Linked DNA regions of Homo sapiens: region 1 is linked to region 2. The links come from fine-mapping of genetic effects on gene expression. A gene starts in region 2. The other region holds a variant in brackets. All regions are shown on one strand. Distances are from middle to middle. Region 1 overlaps GABPB1 (GA binding protein transcription factor subunit beta 1). Region 2 holds the start of GABPB1-IT1 (GABPB1 intronic transcript).

Evidence for each region. PIP is the estimated chance that this variant, and not a neighbour inherited with it, causes the effect.
Region 1: its variant is the best candidate, but not a certain one, in a credible set for the expression of GABPB1-IT1 in whole blood (INTERVAL, PIP 0.64).

Annotation. Positions count from the first base shown.
Region 1 is chr15:50,309,855-50,312,876 of GRCh38, reverse strand. All of the region lies in intron 1 of GABPB1 (GA binding protein transcription factor subunit beta 1), which reads left to right. Among named protein-coding and RNA genes, the nearest start is that of GABPB1-AS1, 43 kb to the left of the region's middle. The variant A/C (reference allele first, on the strand shown) is at 1,491.
Region 2 is chr15:50,353,354-50,356,098 of GRCh38, reverse strand. It overlaps GABPB1-IT1 (GABPB1 intronic transcript), which reads left to right and starts at 1,220. Exons shown (of 1, transcript NR_026891.1): 1 at 1,220-2,745. GABPB1 (GA binding protein transcription factor subunit beta 1) reads left to right here and starts at 901. Exons shown (of 9, transcript NM_016654.5): 1 at 901-1,114. It overlaps GABPB1-AS1 (GABPB1 antisense RNA 1), which reads right to left and starts at 1,925. Exons shown (of 1, transcript NR_024490.1): 1 at 1-1,925. RefSeq lists enhancers at 348-427, 496-1,119, 1,858-1,917 and silencers at 628-677, 1,258-1,507, 1,518-1,727.

The DNA.
Region 1 (3,022 bases), 43 kb after region 2:
CAATAAAAAAAAGACAGACAACCCAGTTTCAAAAGGTGGGGAAAAGCCCTAAACTCTCACTTCACAAAAGATACTCAGATATCTAAACCATTTGGCAGTATGTATGCTGAATGAATGCAAACTGATTTTATATTACCTGTGTAAAACCTATTTAAAAATGTAGATTTTTGGAAAGATAAATTTCATCGTAAAGCCAAATTTATATCATTCAGAGTATAAATGCTGTATTTGTTAGTGTGACCAGTTTAGATTTTACCGTACTTCTGTAGGAGAGAGGTCGGTTTCTTTTTGCTTTATCCTGCCTTTAATAGGAAATTATTTTTGCAGGTTTCTTCCCTGTTGAATATGATGTTAATTTTTACTGTCCAGCAGTTACATATTATCTAGGAAAAAATGCCTCATTGGAGATCAGTAATCTCTATAGATCTTAGCGTCTTTAAGCAGGATTGAGGAGTATCTTGGCTTTCAGTGACTCCATCAAGGTATGAGAGAATAGGAGAAAAAAAGGAAAGGAAATCAGAAATTCAAGGATGAAAATGTTGCGAGTGTCACAGAGAAGTGTATTTAAAAAACCCATATAAATCCCACAAGTACATGTGGTTGTTTTTCCTATTCTTTACTACAGGATATAATATAGATTATTTTTTTTTTTTGAGATGGAGTCTCACTCTTGCCCAGGCTGGATTGAATTTTTAGTAGAGACAGGGTTTCACCCTGTTGGCCGGGCTGGTCTCGAACACCTGACCTCAAGTGATTCACCCACCTCGGCCTCCCAGAGTGGTGGGATTACAGGTGTAAGCTGCTGCGCCTTGCCATAATATAGATTATTTTTATCCTTACAAATGAAACAATTCTAAGAAATTCTTTCTTGCCTTGTGACGAAGGCCTGTTTGGGATATGTATATCTCACCTAATTATTGTGCAAGCCTCCAAGTATTAGTATCTGTCCCTGGTTACCTCTTCTGTGCTTGGTTATTCCCATCGTAGCTAATCTACTAAAAATTATAGGCATAATTCTGTTTATTTTCATGGACAGCTTTTCTTATAATTACCCCTTTTAGATTTCTTATCCCTTTTAATGATGTAGAACATTTTGTTTCTTTCTGGCAGAAATAACTTTTTCAAGCCCCATTTGCCAACTTCCTTCTCACACATACGCTCCTTTCTCTTCCTTATTGAGTGCAAGTTGAGTATCCCTTATCTGAAATACTTAGGTCCATAATGTTTCCGATTTTGGGTTTTTTCAGATTTTGGAATATTTGCATTAATACTTACTGGTTCAGCATCCCTAATGCAAAAATGCAAAATCTGAAATGCTCTAATGAGTATTTCCTTTGATGCTTAAAAAGTTTCAGATTTCAGATTTTTGGATTAGGGATACTCAACCTGTAATAGTTGTTCATACCAGGTAGAGATACACTAATCAACCTGCCATTACTCTCTTTATAATTTATTTTCTCTTGACTACTTACCTAACCCTCAGAGTATAT[A/C]CTTTTTTTGAGATAAATTTATACCCCAGGCACATTTTTTCATTGTAAATCTCAGGGATTCCATATATTCCCTTCCCCATGGGCCTAAAATTCTGCTTTTCCTTACTTAGGATACTGTATGACATAATTGAGTAATCTTCCAGCTGGATAGTCTTTCTGGGTTTGGAAACTTTCTTCTCAGAACTGTCATCCCTTGAATTTGAATGTTTGTGATACATTCAAATCTTAATTTACCTATATTCTACTGTCATAATCTTTTTTCTGACATATATTTCAATATTTCTTATTCAAGAAGACACAAATACATACACACCCATGCACACCTCACATCCCAGGCTGGGACATTAGCCTTTTCAGATATATTAAATTCAAGGCACAAGATATTCTTTCCTGGTTTTTTTTTTTTTTTTTGAGACAGAGTTTACTTTGTTGCCCAGGCTAGAGTGCAGTGGCATGATCTCGGCTCACTGCAACCTCCGCCTCCTGGGTTCAAGTGATTCTTGTGCCTCAGCCTCCTGAGTAGCTGGGACCCTAGGTGTGAGCCCCCATGCCCAGCCAATTTTTTATTTTTAGTAGAGATAGGGTTTCACCATGTTGTCCAGGCTGGTCTCGAACTCCTGGCCTCAAGGATCCACCTGCCTCAGCCTCCCAGACTGCTGGGATTACAGGGATGTGCCATCGCACCTGGCCTCTAGCCTCTAATGAGACAGTCTATTCGTAATACTATTACTGTTTTTAGTATTTTCATAGAATGTGAATTGTTTACTTTCTGCAAGAACTTAAATATACATTGCATGTAGGAGGGCAGAAAATTTGTTTTTTAAAATTTTGAACACATTTACTATTGCAAAAAAATTTATGCTAAGTTTAGTTTAATTTGCACCAACAACAGATGACAATATCTTGCACTTTATTTACTTTTATGAAAAATTTTATTGCTGCAAACCCTCCAGTAAAAACAATTAGTTGCCAGTTTTAAATTTTAGACCAGCTTGGCTGGGTGGGGTGGCTCATGCCTGTAATCCCATCACTTTGGGAGGCCAAGGCGGGCAGATCATTTGAGGTCAGGAGTTTGAGACCAGCCTGGCTAACATGGTGAAACCCTGTCTCTACTGAAAATAGAAAAATTAGCTGGGTGTGGTGGTGCATGCCTGTAGTCCAAGCTACTTGGGAGGCTGAGGCAGGAGAATCACATGAACCCAGGAGGCGGAGGTTGCAGTGAGCCAACATCGTGCCACTGCACTCCAGCCTGGGTGACAGGCCGAGACTCTGTGTCAAGAAAAAAATAAATAAATAAAAATTTAGGCCAGCTTTTCTCTGCTACTTACCTCTTCTATCTTTTACCAGATGTATTTGGAGAATTTAAACTACTTTTATTCTAAGTAAAAACTTAATGAGAAAGGAAAATGGATTCTAAAATCCAAATATAAATTGCTTTTGTATGATCTGTAATTTTAAATTAACCATAGCACACTCTTTTGAAGGGATAATTGAGAACTGACTTATTAATAAAGACAGGAAGGGAAAATGTC
Region 2 (2,745 bases):
TGTGAAAAACATATCAATATATTAAGTTCCTTAGCAAATCACATCTAGATTAAGTTCATAATGCTTTTTTTTTTTTTAACTTTGCAAATCTCCAAACTTTTGCTACTTTCTTAATAAAATACAACAAAATTTTTGGCATTCCAGCCACGGAAAAACAGATCTCTACCTCTGAGGTGGCAGTAATCCAAGCAGTTACTAGGATCTACGAAACATGAGGCATAATTAGAATGTTGGGGAAAAAATCTACAGAAATATCTATATCTTCGTCATGAACCTGACTGTTGAGTTTATGAAAAAGTGGAAAAGGAACCTCACTCGTTCCTTCCCTGGTACCTTCACAGCGTCTCCCGTCCCAGTCTGCCTAGTTGAATCTAGGGACACTTAAAGGTAAATCCTAGCCTCTTGGCTGTCCTTCCGTCTCCCAGGATTCTGCTAGGCCGCACAGTTGGCAAGCTTAAAACTCCAAAGATTCCGCACTCTCCGTCTTTCAACAGTCATGTCACAGAGACACGAAGGTTAGCACAGGAACATTAGTTTCCAAACTCCTACCCACCGCAGAACAGGCGGGAAGGTTCGGTGGCCACCCGGCCTCTCCGCCGCGCACATGGCCGTCCGCAGCTCCCACCCCCGCTGCCGCGCAGGCGCCGGGCGAGCCGGGACTTGCGGTCGCCGAGAGCGGATCATTCCGCCGCTTTCTTTGTGTGGCTGAAGCGCTAGAAATGGCATATTTTCTTTCCCTTCGTTAAAAAATCAGACCCTCTTTCCCCTCTCTCCCCGCGGGAACACAGCTAGGGAGTGGGTAGGAGCAGGATCTGCCGACGAGGGCAGAGGCGGAAAATCCTCGGGCGATGAGCTGAAGAGGGCCGGGTCCGGGAGGGATGCTGGGAGCTTGACTCACTCGCACACCATGTGTCCCTCCGCGCGCAGCACGGGGGACTTTTCGGTGGGGATTTTGGGCGCCGACCAGACGCGGCATTTTCGGAAAATAGCGCCCTGTGCAGCTGAAGCGCTTTGTGTGTAGCGGGGCCGCGTCAGCCCGGCCGGGTACGAGGCGCCTCGGGTCCCCGCACCACCTCCTGCTGCCTTCCCGTCGCCGCTCCCGAAGCTTTTCCAGGTCAGTGCGGGTCTGTGTAGGGCCCTGTTACCACCGGATGTGGAAGTTGATCTCTTCGCTGGTAAAAAATAATTCCACTTCCCCCGGAACCCAGATCATCCCCGCGATTTCCTGTTTATTGCATTAAGGCGCCGGGTTTCCGGGGCTCCTGGCCCCGCTTATTCCGCGGGGGTCGGCGGGGTCGGCCTGGGCGCCCGCGCCGCCGCTGCGCTTTGTCCGCTGGGCACACTGCTTCTGGGAGGGGCGGGCAGACATGGTGGCGGCCGCCGCCCCCTCCTCGGCCCTAGCATGCCGCGGCCGCCTCGCGGCTACCCGGCTTGCCGGTCCCGAGCGGCAGCCCCGGGGTGGCGATGGGGTCGCGCCGAGGCAGCGGAGGTTCTGCGGGCGACTGGAGGTTGGCAGTGGGCGGGAGAAAGAGGAAGGCAGGCGCGGCTGGGCCTCGGCCTCTGGCGCCGCGGTACCCTTTGTCTCGGCAGCCTGACGGCCCCGCCGGGCTCTCCGGAGAGGGGAACGGGCGGCGAGGGTGGCGGGTCCTGGGCGCCCTGTGCTGCGGGGCCGAGAGGCGCTCGGGTCGCGGCGGGATCGGCCGGACCAGACAGGGTTAATGGAAGAGCCTGGCCAGTCCCGCGCGGGGCCCCCGCAGCGACAGCCTTGGCCGCGGGGACTGGAGTCCTGAGGGGGAGAAGCCTGCCGTTCTGAAGGCTCGGGACTTCTGCCCCAAAGACTTCGCCGCCGAGAACTGCGGGTGCACTGCCTCAGGGAAGAAGTTGAGAATTTTGCCAGGTCATCTCTGCCAGGGCACAGTTCATCACTGTGTGTTTAGTGTGTTTCGGTGAAGCTCTCCAAGTGTGTTGAATCAGCGTGCCTAGCCTCAAGGGTGCATCGTGAAAACTGAAACCAAAGGAATGATACAGGCCTGCTTTGTGTGTGTCTTCCCACTTTAAGCTTGTTTTCAGTACAAATACTCTTGCTTTAAACCTGATTGGACTGTGGCGAGCGGACATCTGTTCAAAGGAGGGGCCGAGACCACAGTACTTCTGAAGGGGGCTTGATAATGTGGAAACATTTTAAGTTTTCTCTCCGGACTGTTTTGCTCTCTCAATTCAGGCAAGTTACTGAAGTACGTTTTTTATCTAGAAAAAGGTTTGATGTAGTCTGTAAATGGTCCTTGTAAAGTACATTGCCATCTCAGAATTAAAAGATCCACTCTCATTTATTATGCAGAAGTTAGTGGTCATTCTTTCCTGTAGATAGTTTATCTCATGTAAAGACCCACCCAGCTTGGTTTAAATTTTTTTCTCACTGACGTATAACCATCAGCTTTGATACTTCCATTTTCAGGCTCAGACTTTGAATTTAAGGAAACTAAAGATGACTTTATTTTCTTTTCTCTTGGTTTTTTTTTTCCAAAAACAAAAAATAAATCCATTACATGTTAACATAGATGATAAGAGTGACATCTTGCATTTTTGCAAATCTTTTTAATGCCTGGTTTAATAGAAGATTCTCAGATCTACGTCAGACTGTTGTGGTTAGCACACCATGTAACCTCTGGAACACTCCACTGTACACTCATACTTTTTTAAAAAAAAAACCAAAAAACAGAAATGTGTCATTCTTACCGTGCTTTC